2 separate regions of the Homo sapiens genome follow, and region 1 is reported to be linked to region 2. Evidence: microRNA targets listed by miRTarBase, many of them from high-throughput screens and not tested one by one. Region 2 holds a microRNA gene; the other region holds the end of a gene's coding sequence.

Evidence for each region. Region 2 holds the annotated microRNA hsa-miR-524-3p (GAAGGCGCUUCCCUUUGGAGU, at 1,985-2,005, shown strand). A microRNA usually pairs through its seed, bases 2 to 8, with sites in the 3' UTR of a target mRNA and lowers its output. Matches are read on the target gene's strand: a 7mer-m8 pairs with bases 2 to 8, a 7mer-A1 pairs with bases 2 to 7 and ends in A, and an 8mer does both.
Region 1: miRTarBase lists VAV3 as a target of hsa-miR-524-3p. The part of its 3' UTR that is shown has no 7-base or 8-base seed match.

The regions. Positions count from the first base shown.
Region 1 is chr1:107,567,462-107,574,461 of GRCh38, forward strand. VAV3 (vav guanine nucleotide exchange factor 3) reads right to left here. Exons shown (of 27, transcript NM_006113.5): 26 at 6,586-6,737; 27 at 3,700-5,911. The coding sequence ends at 5,870. Among named protein-coding and RNA genes, the nearest start is that of MIR7852, 330 kb to the right of the region's middle.
Region 2 is chr19:53,709,070-53,716,335 of GRCh38, forward strand. It overlaps MIR524 (microRNA 524), which reads left to right and starts at 1,933; the gene lies at 1,933-2,019. MIR517A (microRNA 517a) reads left to right here and starts at 3,199; the gene lies at 3,199-3,285. MIR519D (microRNA 519d) reads left to right here and starts at 4,278; the gene lies at 4,278-4,365.

The DNA of each region.
Region 1 (7,000 bases), not on the chromosome of region 2:
AACTAACTACCAGCATATTTTACTTCACTCATTTGGTGGAAGACAAAATACTTGTTACAAAGCTGTGTTCCCATGTTAACTAGCAAATAAAGGGAGCAACGGTGAGTACAATTGGCAGTGGTGAGGACGGTGATGAACTGATACAAGGTCTAACAGTCACGTAATGTTAATATGTCAAAGAGAAGTGATAAAGATACCAACGGAGTTGGCTCCTCAAATAATGGATTCAGGGCTGTATAACCCACTGTATCGTAATGAAAATAAGAGGAATTTTGTGTTTGTAGCAAGGTTGTGATGGTGAAGTCAAGCAGAAGCTACCACCATGGCCTTTCCTGGTCCTTAGAAGGAATGAAGTGATTCCACCCTCTCCCTAAGACAGACTCCATCACTGTGGATTATCAGCTGGCCTGCTCCACCAAGGGAAACTTGACTCCAAGCCTCTCTGGATTAGCAGCCATTTTCTAGTGCAAGAGTGAATCAAAGTAGAAACGAAAATTCAATCTGATACTAATCTCTCTAGGCAATATCTTTTTTGGGTTTTCTTTTAGGTGGCAGGAATAGTGGCATATTTCTGAATTCTGTGTTAACCTTTCATTGTTCAAACCACTGTTTAGTATCGTATAGTTTCTTCTCGGTTATGTAAGTTTAAAAATGTACGAAATCTCTCTCTTGCCCTACAAAGTGTGGCAGGATAGGGTAGTGGTTATACGGACTCTGGAGCCAGACCACCCAAGTCAGAATTCAGCTCTGACACTTAGCAGCTGTGTGACTTTGGGAAAGTTGCAACCTCTTGATGTACCTCAGTTTCCTCATGTGCAAATGAAAATATTATGGGGTTCTACCTTTGGGGGTTGTTGTAAGTTGGTGCAAATAAAGCACTTAGAACAGAGCATGGCACATGGTAAGCATGCCAATACATGTTATTGGCAACTATTGAGTTTACCTTGTAGTTCACTGTTCATAACTTAGGCAGCAATCCTGAGCTAAACTTAAACAAAATTAGGGCTTAATCCCCATGTTAATTATGGGGCTGGTGTATGTGTGTTATGGGACTGTGGGGCCTGTCAAGATAGTCCTTCTAAGGTAAAGGGTAAGTTGCTGCATTTGGCCCCTCCTACAACCAAGAAAGAGGCACAATGCCTAGTGGGCCTATTTGGCTTTTGGAGGCAACACATTCCTCATTTGGGTATATTAGTCCTGCCCAATTATCAAGTGACCTGAAAGGCTGCCAGTTTTGAGTGGGGTCCAGAACAGAAGGCTCTGCAACAGGTCCAGGCTGCTGTACGAGCTGCTCTGCCACTTGGGCCATATGACCCAGCAGATCCAATCGTGCTTGAGGTGTCAGTGGCAGATAGGGATGCTGTTTGGAGCCTTCGGCAGACCCCCATAGGTGAATCACAGTGGAGGCCTCCAGGATTTTGGAGCAAGACCCTGCCATCTTCTGCAGATAACTACTCTCCTTTTGAGAGACAGCTCTTGGATTGCTACTGGGCTTTGGTGGAAACTGAACATTTGACTATGGGTCATCAAGTCACCATGCCACCTGAATTGCCTATCATGAACTGGGTGCTTTCTGACCCATCTAGCCATAAAGTGGGTCATGCACAGCAGCATTCCATCATCAAATGAAAGTGGTATATACGTGATCGGGCTCGAGCAGGTCTTGAAGGCCAAGTAAGTTACATGAGGAAGTGGCTCAAACGCCCATGGTCTCTACTCCTGCCACCCTGCTTTCTCTTCCCTAGCCTGCACCAATGGCCGCATAAGGAGTTCTCTATGATGAATTGACAGAGGAGAGAAGACTAGGGCCTGGTTCACAGATGGTTCTTCATGATATGCAGGCATCACCCAAAGTGGACAGCTGCAGCACTACAGCCCCTTTCCAAGACATCCCTGAAGGACAGTGCTGAAGGGAAATATTTCCAGTGGGCAGAACTTCAATCAGTGCACCTGGTTGTGTGATTATATACTGATACGTGGGCTGTAGCCAATGGTTTGGCTGGGTGGTCAGGGACCTGGAAGAAGCATGATTGGAAAATTGGTGACAAAGAAATCTGGGGAAGAGGTATGTGGATGGGCCTGAGTGGCCAAAAACTGTGAAGATATTTGTATCCCATGTGAGTGCTCACCAATGGGTGACCTCAGCAGAGGAGGATTTTAATAATCAACTGGCTAGTATGACCCATTCTGTGGACACCACTCAGCCTCCTTCTCCAGTCACTCCTGTCATCGCTCAATGGGCCCATCAACAAAGTGGCCATGGTGGCAGGGTTGGAGGTTACACATGGGCTCAGCAACATGGACTTCCACTCACCAAGGCTGACCTGGCTACAGCCAGTGTTGAGTGCCCAATTTGCCAGCAGCAGAGACCAACACTGAGCCCTCGATATGGCACCATTCCTTGGGGTGATCAGGCAGCTAGCTACCTGGTGGCAGGTTGATTATATTGGACCTCTTCCATCATGGAAAAGGCAGAAGTTTGTCCTCACTGGAATAGACAATTACTCCAGATATGGGTTTGCCTATTTTGTATGCAATGCTTCTGCCAAGACTACCATCCGTGGACTCACAGAATGCCTTATCCACAATCATGCTATTCCACACAGCATTGCCTCTGTCCAAGGCACTCACTTTATGGCTAAAGAAGTGTAGCAGTGGGCTCATGCTCATGGAATTCACCATCATCCTGAAGCAGCTGAATTGATAGAAAGGTGGAATGGCCTTTTGAAGTCACAATTACAATGCCAACTAGGTGACAATACTTTGCAGGGATGGGACAAAATTCTTTAGAAGGCCGTGTATGCTCTGAATCAGTGTCCAATGTATGGTACTGTTTCTCCCATGGCCAGGATTCAAGGGTCCAGGAATCAGGGGGTGGAAGTGGAAGTGGCACCACTCACCATCACCCTAAGTGATCCACTAGCAAAATTTTTGCTTCCTGTTCCCGCGACATTCTGTTGTGCTGGCCTAGAGGTCTTAGTTCCAGAGGGAGGAATGCTGTGGATATGGGTACAGCCGGGCGCGAGATTTACACCCTCTCCCCCGCACTTTCAAGGGCCCTCCAGAGCTCACCAGATGCCGCTGGAAGCGCGACGCTTTCCAAGGCGCGGACCCCTCTCTCCAGGCGAACCCAATTCCAGGGCGCCCTGCCCTTCACAAGGAGAAAAGAACTCTCCCCGGGGCTTCCATTGGCTTCTCTGGGATCCTTCGCATTACTGTGCTGGACGCTTGGCAGTGTCCATCTCCGCCACTCCGGATTCGGGATCTGAACCGGACTCCCTTTCGATTGGCTGAGGGCAACAGAGGCCATCGCCTGTCCATTCAGAATGGCGCTCACCTATTTCTCAGGACCGAATGACCCATGTCCAACTGCTGTTCACATGGAACCCTTCTCCACTTCGGCCTTTGAAGTTCTCTTTAGAATATGTGCTACTACCACCAACATCTGCACCTGCGGCGGCTCTGCCCGGGCCCAGCCCTGGGCTTCAAGACTCACCGCAGCGGCCCTCCTACTAGACGCATAGCGTCCACGGGGCTGGCGGGCGGGGGGGTGGTGACCTCCACACATACACTGCTTCTGTTCACTCTGGACTGCTGGCGATGGCCTGGTACAGGCCCAACAATCCAGTGCCATCCATTTTCAGGGGAACCCTGACTAATACAGGGATCATTCAATAAAAAGACTCCAACTCTTAGAAATCAATTTAGTCACTATTTATTATATTGACATATTTACAAAATAATACAAAGTGAAATACCACTCTAATTCACCGTATTACACGAGGGCTGCATACAGGCAAGACAAAGTATATGGAAAACATTTACTTCTGTCTTTGGTATTAGAACTCTACACAAATCTGCAGCATTTAAATTTTCCAAAACAAAGTATTAAACGTGGACAAAGATGTAATTGGTAATGTCACAAAAAGGGGCTCCAATATCCTCTGCTAGGAAACCCCCAGGCCCATGAAATGCAACAGGAAGACTAAACACCATTTATAAGGAGAGGGTCTATTGACTAAAATAAACAATACATGCTACAATACCATCCACAGGAGTGTTTCTGCTTGTGTGAGGCTGCTCCCTCCATAACAAAGTTCGGCTGACGGCAACAGACAAAACATTCCCGAGACAGAGTCGCAGATAAGACTTTACAGGAAAGAATCCATTCCAAGAGTACACTTTGAGGTGTAACTTTATTGTACAGAACATTTTATAAAATACATTTTTGTGATCATTTACACATATACAAAGACTTAAATGGTTTTAGCAAATAATAATTTTTCTAAAACACAATCACAGTTTACATAATTCTGAGGTAAAGGTCTTGAATCTATCCTAGATGAAAAGTCCTAGCCCATGAGGGTCTCTAACAGGGGGATGTGTCCACTGAACCTTGAGTTCTGGCACCCAGACGGATTGATGAGAGGGCAGGCTACACCTGCTTCATTTCAGAGATGATTCAAAATTTCAGAACTTAATGCTCCTGGTTCAGTTCTACTAAGTTAATGCTTCTTTTTTTTCCCAACATGTAACTCTCTCAGTCTTGTCAGAACACAACTTCTGCTATGGAGGAAATATTTCCATCAGGAAAGGGCCAAGTTAGTGTCTTAACTTGACTGCCTTGAATGGGGACTCTGGACCCCAGGAAGAATGTATTTAGGCTCCTCACAAAAAAGAGTGATGGCTGGGCAAAACAAATGTACTGCAAGACCCATCTTCCCTCCAGTTAATACACTCCCAGGATGGGCTGCAGAGGGGGAGACTCTGAGAGAAGCTGGAGGCCCACAAAAGTCCACTGACCCTCTTTCTGTCCCAGAAATGAATAAAGGACCCAGTTGTGCTTTCCTTCCAAAATCCTCAACAAAGTTGTTTGTGCTCCAAGAAAATGTGGGAATAAAAAAATCATGTCCCAGGTCATCTTTGTGTGTGTGCGGGGGAGGTGGATGGGAGGAAAAGGCATGTATTAATAGATACTGCTGCTATAAAATGACATAAATTATAGCCCTTGATCTGTTTCTGTAAACAATGCCAGCTTCTTCAGGTTATTGGCAACTACCCTTAATATACCTAGCCCAGATCCTTTCATAAAGTCAAGTGCTATATTTCCAAAATAATCCTATGAAATCATGAAGGTTGTGAAGGTTTAATATGAAGACACCCTCTCTTTTGTGTGCTTTTTTCACCTTTTATAAAGAAGTTTGCAAATATAATCAGGACACCAAATAAGTAATTAAAACCCTTCAGGGATAGCTCACTTATGATGCAAACCTGAGCACTGGCCTCATATTTTATAATATCATGAGTAACATCTGAGGGTAAAAGTGTTTGCCGGGCAATGAGTCACCTTGTTGGACAATTTAAGACAAGTAAGGCTGGATCTTTCCAGTAAGCTGCTCAAATGGCAGAACTCCAATTTTTCGTCATGCTGGGAAAAGGAAAATTACACTTCTGCTTCTTTGTACCATCAAATAATCTGGTGAATGGCATGTGAGAATAAAGCAAAAGTGTATTAAGATTTACTGATGACTGGCATTCATGGTATCTGACCAGAAGAAGTAAAGGGAAGCACGAACCAATGTGTTTGCAGGGCTCTTCTGGGAAGAACAGCTCTTGGTTTTGCCCTGGTCCCTGACAATGACAGACTGGCAGGCTGTTTCTTGCACAGCTCTAGGCAAGCCATTAATCTGTCAGTACCAGCATCTTTAGAAATCTCAGCATTAAGACTTAGGAGGGGCTAAGGAGGGAGGATGTTGAACAGCCAGAAATGCAGCTTTTTAAACACTTCAGTTAATTCACGATGCTGTGCAGGCTTCTATTTATCCCTTCTCTGAAATTTTTGGTGCAGGGTGCAACACGGGATTTGAATTTATTCATCCTCTTCCACATATGTGGATGGAAACCAGCCCACCTAAAAAAGAAAAGCAACCAACACAGCAACATGACTTTGTATCTGACACTTCAAAGGATTCTACAAACAGAGTATTTTGTTTTCATAACACCCCAATTAAACTGGGGTTTTATGTCCATTGTAGGTGAGAAGATTGGTTTAACTGCTCTTAGAAGCCTAATAGAGTAAATGATCGAAATGGAGGAATAAAATAAACAGTGTTCTAATCCACTAGCACACAAATAAATATGTAAATTAAGTATAATACAGGGGGGCTCTGCTGCATAATGATTCCTATTTCTGCTGTAGAACAGGATGAAAAGACAGAGGTACTATGTCCCATTCTTTCCAATTTACATCAGCAGTTCTTATAGATATTTTGCAATACACATAAAGTTTAGCTCTATGGCTCAGGGTCTAAAAAGAACTGAAATGCTCCTCGACTCTTTTCCAAGCAGCAAGCTGTCCCACTTGCCCAGGTGAATTTTATTTATGTCACTATCATATTCATTTCAAATATTTTCAGCGAGTCCCTGGTATCAGCAAAACACAGCACCAGTTTCCAGAGGGCAGAGGCCTGTGGGCTGAAAGCTGTAATACAGTATAGAGGCTTCTCCCTGGTGCCACAATGGGTGCAAACAACTGCTCAGTCCCCTTCTTTCACATGCACCAGCACATCGAGAGGGCCAACTTACCCTGCCATTTACTTCTCCTCTCCACCAGCCATTTGCACTCATCTTTGTGTAAATCTTCACCACATCTCCTTTCAACAAGGACAACTCTCTCATATCTCTTGCACAGAAGTCATACCGAGCGATGGCAATGCCCAGCACTTTTGGACTTAACACTGTCAAGAAATGACAAGCAATGACAGTAGGTTTGCAGTTCGTTAACAACCATAACAACCTAATCAGATGAATGTTATTGATGCTATCAAATGCACAGTCGTGATTTCATTACAGACCAGCGATAATGGCAGAGGAGCTTGAAAGCAGCAGAATTGCTGTTTCAATTCAATCAGGTGCAAGCAAATTCGCTTCATAAGTTTAAAGAACCATTGTCCTGTTTTTCCATTCTTCATAAGAACCTCAATCAAAGTAAGGACTAGTT
Region 2 (7,266 bases):
CAGGTTGGAGTCCAGTGGCGGAATCTCAGCTCACTGCAACCTCCGACTCCGTGGTTCAAGCGATTCTCCTGCCTCAGCCTCCTGAGTAGCTGGGATTACAGGCACGCACCGCCATGCCGAGCTAATTTTTGTATTTTTAGTAGAGACCGGGTTTCACCACGTTGGCCAGGATGGTCTCAAACTCCTGACCTCATGATCCACCCGCCTCGGCCTCCCAAAGTGCTGGGATTACAGGTGTGAGCCTCCGTGCCCAGCCTGTTATTTTATTTTGTTTTATTTTATTTATTTTATTTTATTTTGAGATGGAGACTGGCTCTGTCGCCCAGGCTGGAATGCAGTGGCAGGATCTCCACTCACTGTAACTCCCACCTCTGTCGCCCAGGCTGGAGTGCAGTGGCAGGATCTCCACTCACCGTGGAGTTCCAGTGATTCTTTCACCTTAGCCTCGCAAATAGCTGGTATTACAAGCACCCACCAACACACCCTGCCAATTTTTGTATTTTTAGACAAGAAAGGGTTTCGCCATGTTGGCCAGGCTGGTCTCGACTCCTGACCTTAAGTGATCCACCTCCCTGGCCTCCCAAAGTGCTGGGATTACAGGCGTGAGCCACCACGTCCAGCCTCAAGTGGTCTTCTTGTCAGCCTCGCAAGTAGTTGGGCTCAGGTTTTAATTTTTGGTAGAGATGGGGTCTCTTTTGCCTGGGATGGTCTCAGCTGAGCTTAAGTGATCCTAAATGTGTGAGCCACCTTGTCCCATTTCAAAGATAGGTGACACGGCCAGGCATCCTGGGACACACAGGGTCCCAGTTACTGCAAAGGCTAGGGTGGGAGGGTCCTTTGATTTTAAGGCTATACCATGCACTGATCACACCTTTGAATAGCCACTGCACTCCGGCCTGGGCCACATAGCAAGATCCCATCTCTTTAAAAACGCAGATTACATGCCATCTGGTTCCTGAGGCTCCATTTGGGTTGGTCACTTCAAATACAGGCCTTTCATCAGTTTAGTTTAATCAATCCAAACCATGTTTCCTTCATTAGGAGAGTAAGGGCCAGGTGTGTAATCCAAGCACTTTGGGAGACTGAAGCAGGCGGATCAGGAGGTCAGGAGTTCGAGACCAGCCTGACCAATATGGTGAAACCCCGTCTCTACTAAAAATACAAAGATTAAGTGGGCGTGGTGGTGCGTGCTTGTAATCCCAGCTACTCAGGAGGCTGAGGCAGCAGAATCTCTTCAACCCAGGAGGCGGAGGTTGCAGTGAGCCAAGATCGCGCAGGTGCACTCCAGCCTGGGCGACAGAGCGAGGCTCCATCTCAAAACAAAACAAAACAAAAAATATAGGCCTCCACATCTATCCAGTCTATTCTGTAATCCCAATGGATGTCAATATTAATACAATGTTCTTATTTTTTCTATTTATTTGTATCTTTTTAGTTGAATCTCCTTGTCCCTGACACTAAATTTTTTTTATTTTTATTTATTTATTTTTTTTGAAACAGTCTTGCTCTGTCGCCCAGGCTGCAGTACAGTGGCGCAATCTCGGCTTACTGTAGCCTCTGTCTCCCGGGTTCCAGTGATTCTCCTTCCCCAACTCCCGGGTAACTGGGATTTTCAGGCACACACCACCACCCCAGCTAATTTTTTTGTACGTTTAGTAGAGACAGGGTTTCACCATATTGGGCAGGCTGGCCTTGAACTCCTGAACTAAGGTGATCCGCCCACCTCGGCCTCCCAAAGTGCTGGGATTAGGGATAAGGCTAACCTGCTTATTCTTTGTAGCAAGGAACTGGAGATGGTCATTTTAGGGGTTTATGTTCTGGATTCCAGAAAACATGCAAACAGGGCCAATAAATGCATCCTCATTTTTGTGTCCATTTTAACCTGGGCAAGGAAAATTCCAACAAAAAACCCAGAGTTCTGGAGCAAGAAGATCTCATGCTGTGACCCTACAAAGGGAAGCACTTTCTCTTGTCCAAAGGAAAAGAAGGCGCTTCCCTTTGGAGTGTTACGGTTTGAGAAAAGCAGCGTTGAAGTTGATGCTTATCTCGGTAATACATTTGTAGAGCATGCTTATCATGAGGCTTGGACGATGGCGGGGTTCTGTTTTGGTTTTGCTTTTTTATTCTAAGACAGGATCTCTGTTGCCCAGGCTGGAGTGCGGTGGCACATCCAACCTAGGTCTTTTGGATTCAAATGGTTTTTTTAGCGGACAGAGTCTCTCTATCACCCAGGCTGAAGTGCAGTGGTGTGATCTCGGCTCACTGCAACCTCCACCTCCCAGGTTCAAGCGAGTCTCCTGCCTCAGCTTCCCAAGTAGGTGAGATTACAGGTGCCCATCACCACACCTGGATAATATTTTCATTTTTTAAAATTCATTTATTTATGTTTTTGAGATGGAGTCTCACTGTTACCCAGGCTGGAGGGCCGAGGCGTGATCTCTGCTCAGTGCAACCTCTGCCTCCCGGATTCAAGCAATTCTTCTACCTCAGCCTCCTGAGTAGCTAGAATTACGGGAGCCCACCACCACACCTGGCTACTTTTTGTTTTTTGTTTTTTGTTTTTTTTTTAGTAGAGATGGGATTTCACCATGTTTGCCAGGCTGGTCTCAAACCCCTGACCTCAAGTTAGCCACCGGCCTCTGCCTCCCAAAGTGCTGGGATTACAGGCATGAGCCACCACGCCTGGCCTAATTTTTATATTTTCAGCAGAGGCGGGGTTTCACCATGTTGGCCAGGCTGGTTGCGAACTCCTGACCTCAGGTGATCTGCCCACCTCAGCCTCCCAAAGTGCTAAGATTACAGGCGTGAGCCACCACACATGGCCATTAACACCTTTTAGTCCATGGAAATTATTCTGGCACTGATTTATAAAGCCTCATGTGGGGTCAGGTAGAGTCAAAGGGGGACCTCAGTGTCCCTTGCAGATGGGATGTGCTCAGCAAGAGCACGGAGGTGGAGTGCATGGGGTTTGAGTTTTCACTGGGGAAATGAAACCAACATCTTGGGTGCATGACCAGGTCATATATGCAGTCATATATGCAATATGCATGGTGGTGGGTGCCTCTAATCCCAGCTACTCAGGAGGCTGACGCAGAAGAATCGCTTGAACCCAGGAGGCAGAAGTTGCCATGAGCCGAGATCCCACCACCGCATCCAGCCTGGGCGGCAGAGTGAGACTCCGTGTCAAAAAAAAGAAGATCTCAGGCAGTGACCCTCTAGATGGAAGCACTGTCTGTTGTATAAAAGAAAAGATCGTGCATCCCTTTAGAGTGTTACTGTTTGAGACAAGCAACGTTGAAGATGCTGCTGATCTTGGTAATACATTTGCAGAGCGTGCTTATCATCAGACTTGCATGATGTCGGGGTTCTGTTTGTGATTTGAAATTTTTCCAAGACAGGCTTTCTATTGCCCAGGCGTGGGTGGATAGCACCTTCCACCAAGATTTCTTGGGCTTAAGTGGTCCTCTTTTTATTTTTTGATTTTTTGAGACACACTCTTGTTTCGTTGGGAGTGCAGTAGCAGGATCTCTGCTCACCGGAAACTCCACCTCTCGGGTTCCAGTGATTCTCCCACCTCAGCCTGCCGAATTGTTGGGAATTCAGGCATCAGGCACCCACCATCGTGTCCTGCACTCTTGCTGCCCATCCTGGAGAGCACTGGCATGATCTAGGCTCACTGCAACCTCCGCCTCCTGGGTTCGAGTGATGCTTCTGCCTCAGCCTCCCAGGTAGTTGGGATTACAGGCACCTACTGCCCCACCCAGCTAATTTTTATGTTTTTAGTAGAGACGGGTTTCACCATGTTGGCCAGGCTAGTCTTGAACTCCCGCTTTCAGGTGATCCACTAGCCTGTGGTCTATCCTGGAGGATGTTTGTGTGTGTGACAATGTATATTCTTCAACATCTTAGACTCCATTTTGGATGCTCCCATCGGAACTATGTATCCCTGTGCTGGAACTCAAGTGAACACTCAGCTCAAAGTCCATTGCTGTTCTCTAGAAATCCAGCCCAGTTCTCTTGGTTAAATATAAGGTATGTGTAGTAGGCATTGCTTTTTCTCTTTAGAGGCAAAACTCAGGAGGGTTGCCCCTTGATGAACAAGGCTAACCTGCAGAGCCTTTGAAGAAAGGAACTGGAGATGGTCCTTTTAGGGGTTTATGTTCTGGATTCTAGAAAACAGGCAAACAGGGCCAATAAATGCATCTTTATTGTTGTGGCCATTTTAACCTGGTCAAGGAAGATTTCAACAAAAAACCCAGAGTGCTGGAGCAAGAAGATCCCATGCTGTGACCCTCCAAAGGGAAGCGCTTTCTGTTTGTTTTCTCTTAAACAAAGTGCCTCCCTTTAGAGTGTTACCGTTTGGGAAAAGCCACGTTGAAGATGATGCTGATCTTGGTAATACATTTGCAGACCATGCTTGTAATCAGACTTGGATGATGTTGGGAGTCTGTTTTTTTGTTTGTTTGTTTGGTTGGTTTTTTTGTTTGTTAGGTTTTTGTTTTTTGTTTTGGTGTGTGTGTTTTGTTTTGTGTTTTTTTTTTTTTCTAAGACAAGGTCTCTGTTGCCCAGGAGAGACTAGAGAAGCACTTTTTAAGATAGGCCTGTTGGGCTCAGATGGTCCTTTTATGGGATACAGTCTTGCTCTGTGACCCAGACTGGAGTGCAGTGGCGCGATCTTGGCTCAATGCAACCTCCACCTCCCGGGTTCGAGTGATTCTCCTGCCTCAGCTTCCTGGGTAGCTGGGATTACAGATGCCTGACATCACACTCGGCTAATATTTGTATTTTTCTTTTTTATTCATTCATTCATTTTTGAGATGGAGTGTTGCTGTCACCCAGCCTGGAGGGCAGTGGCATGATCCCGGCTGACTCCAACCTCTGCCTCTCAGGTTCAAGCCATTCTCCTGCCTCAGTCTCCTGAGTAGGTGGAATTACAGGCACCCACCACTACAACCAGCTACTTTTTGATTTTGATTTTTTTTTTTTTTTTTTTTTTTTAGTAAAGGTGGGGTTTCACCATGTTGGCCAGGCTAGTCTCAAACCCCTGACCTCAAGTGAGCCGCTGGCCTCGGCCTCCCAAAGTGCTGAGAATACAGGCGTGAGCCACCGGGCACAGCCATCAGCACCTTTTACTTTATGGAAATTTTTCTGGCACTGGTATAGAACCTCACGTGGGGTCAGGTGGAGTTGAGGGGACCTCAGTGTCCCTGCAGATGGGATGAGCAAGAGCACGGAGGTGGAGTGCATGGGGCTTCAGTGTTTATTGGGGAAATGAAGCTGAAATCTGGGTGCATGACCAGGAGATAAATGCATGAGACGGCGGTCTCACTATGCTGCCCTGGCTGAAGTGGGCTTAGATCCTCCTGCCTCTGCCCCTCCCCAGTCCTTGGTAGATGGGACCACATGTGAATATTAACCCCCCATGCACAGACAAGAAGAAAGTAAGGACTGTTCTTTGGTTCATACCTGACCCCAGTTAAACTTGTATTTTAGATAAACAATGTATTTGAGATGTACTTGAACAACAAACGATTTGCTGTTCAGGTGTGGGCATCTTTGTTTTGTTTTTTTTTTTCCTAATTTTAAATATGGGACTAGTGTGCATATGGTGGCTCTTGTCTGTAATTCCTGCACTTTGTGAGGCTGAGACAGGAGGATCACCTGAGATCAGTTGTTCGAGACCAGCCTGGCCAACATGAAGCCAGGAGGCTGAGCTTTCAGTGAGCTGAAATCTTCTGCTGCACTCCACCCTGGGCAACAGAGTGAGACTCAGTCTCAAGAAAGTAAAAAATAGGCCGGGCGCGGTGGCGCATGCCTGTAATCCCAGCACTTTGGGAGGCCGAGACGGGAGGATCACCTGAGGTCAGGAGTTCAAGACCAACAGGGCCAACATGGCAAAGCCTCGTCTCTACTAAAAATACAAAAATTAGCTGGGTGCAATGGTGCACATCTGTAATTCCAGCTACTCCGGAGGCTGAGGCAGGAGAATCCCTTGAACCCAGGAGGAGGAGATTTCAGTGAGCTGAAATCAAGCCATGGCATTCCAGCCTGGGCCAGAGAGCAACATTCCGTCTCAAAAATAAATGAATAAATAAAATAAATAAAAATAAATAGATAAATATGGGACATCATAAATTTGGGTGTCACCTTTGTGTAGCAGCCAGCGTAATCTCTGTCATTCCAATTTTTTTTTATGTGAACTGCCAAAGCAAGCACTTGTGTAGGAATTTTTCTTCCTGTGAGCATACAATATATGGAACTTTCTTTGACACAGGGTCTCAGAAATATATGGTATATATTTCGTTATATATATACTTATATATAATATAATCATATACACACAAAATACTGTTCTAAATACAGAGAATACTCTGATATAACCTTGGGTATTTTTTTCTTTCTTTGTGTGTGTATGTTTTTTATTTGTTTGGCTGGTTTTTTTTTGTTTTTGTTTTTTGTTTTTTGTTTTTTGTTTTTGTTTTTGTTTTGAGACAGAGTCTCACTCTGTCGCCGAGGCTGGAGTGCAGTGACAGGATCTCGGGTCACTGCAAGCTCCGCCTACCGGGTTCACGCCATTCTCCTGCCTCAGCCTCCTGAGTAGCTGGGACCACAGGCACCCACCACCACACCTGGCTAATTTTTTTTTGTATTTTTAGTAGAGACAGGGTTTCGCCATGTTAGCCAGGATGATCTCGATCTCCTGACCTCGTGATCCACCCGCCTCGGCCTCCCAAAGTGCTGGGATTACAGGCGTCAGCCACCGCGCCCGGCCAGTTGGTTATTTTTGAGACAAGGTCTGGCTCTATCACCCAGGCTGGAGTGTAGTGGTGCGATCTTGGCTCACTGCAACCTCCACCTCCCACCTAAACCTGCTGAATTAGTGTCTACAGGCATGCACCACCACACCTGGCTCACTTTTGTGTTTTTCATACACATGGGTTTACACCATGTTGCTGGGGCTGGTCTCAGGAACTCCTGAGCTCAGGTGATCCTCCCGTCTTGGCCCCCTAATGTGCTAGGATTAGAGGTGTGAGCCAACCCACCCCACCCATACTTACGTATTTCTGTTCAGATTTTATTGAGTTTTTATGACCAAGCCTATGGTCTATCCTGGAGAATATTTGTGTATGTGACAATGTATATTCTTCAACATCGTAGACTCGATTTTGGGTGCTCCCATCGGGACTGTGTGTACCTGTCCTGGAACTCAAGTGCACCCTTGGCTCATAATCCATTGCTCTTCTCCAGAAATCTTACCAATTCTCC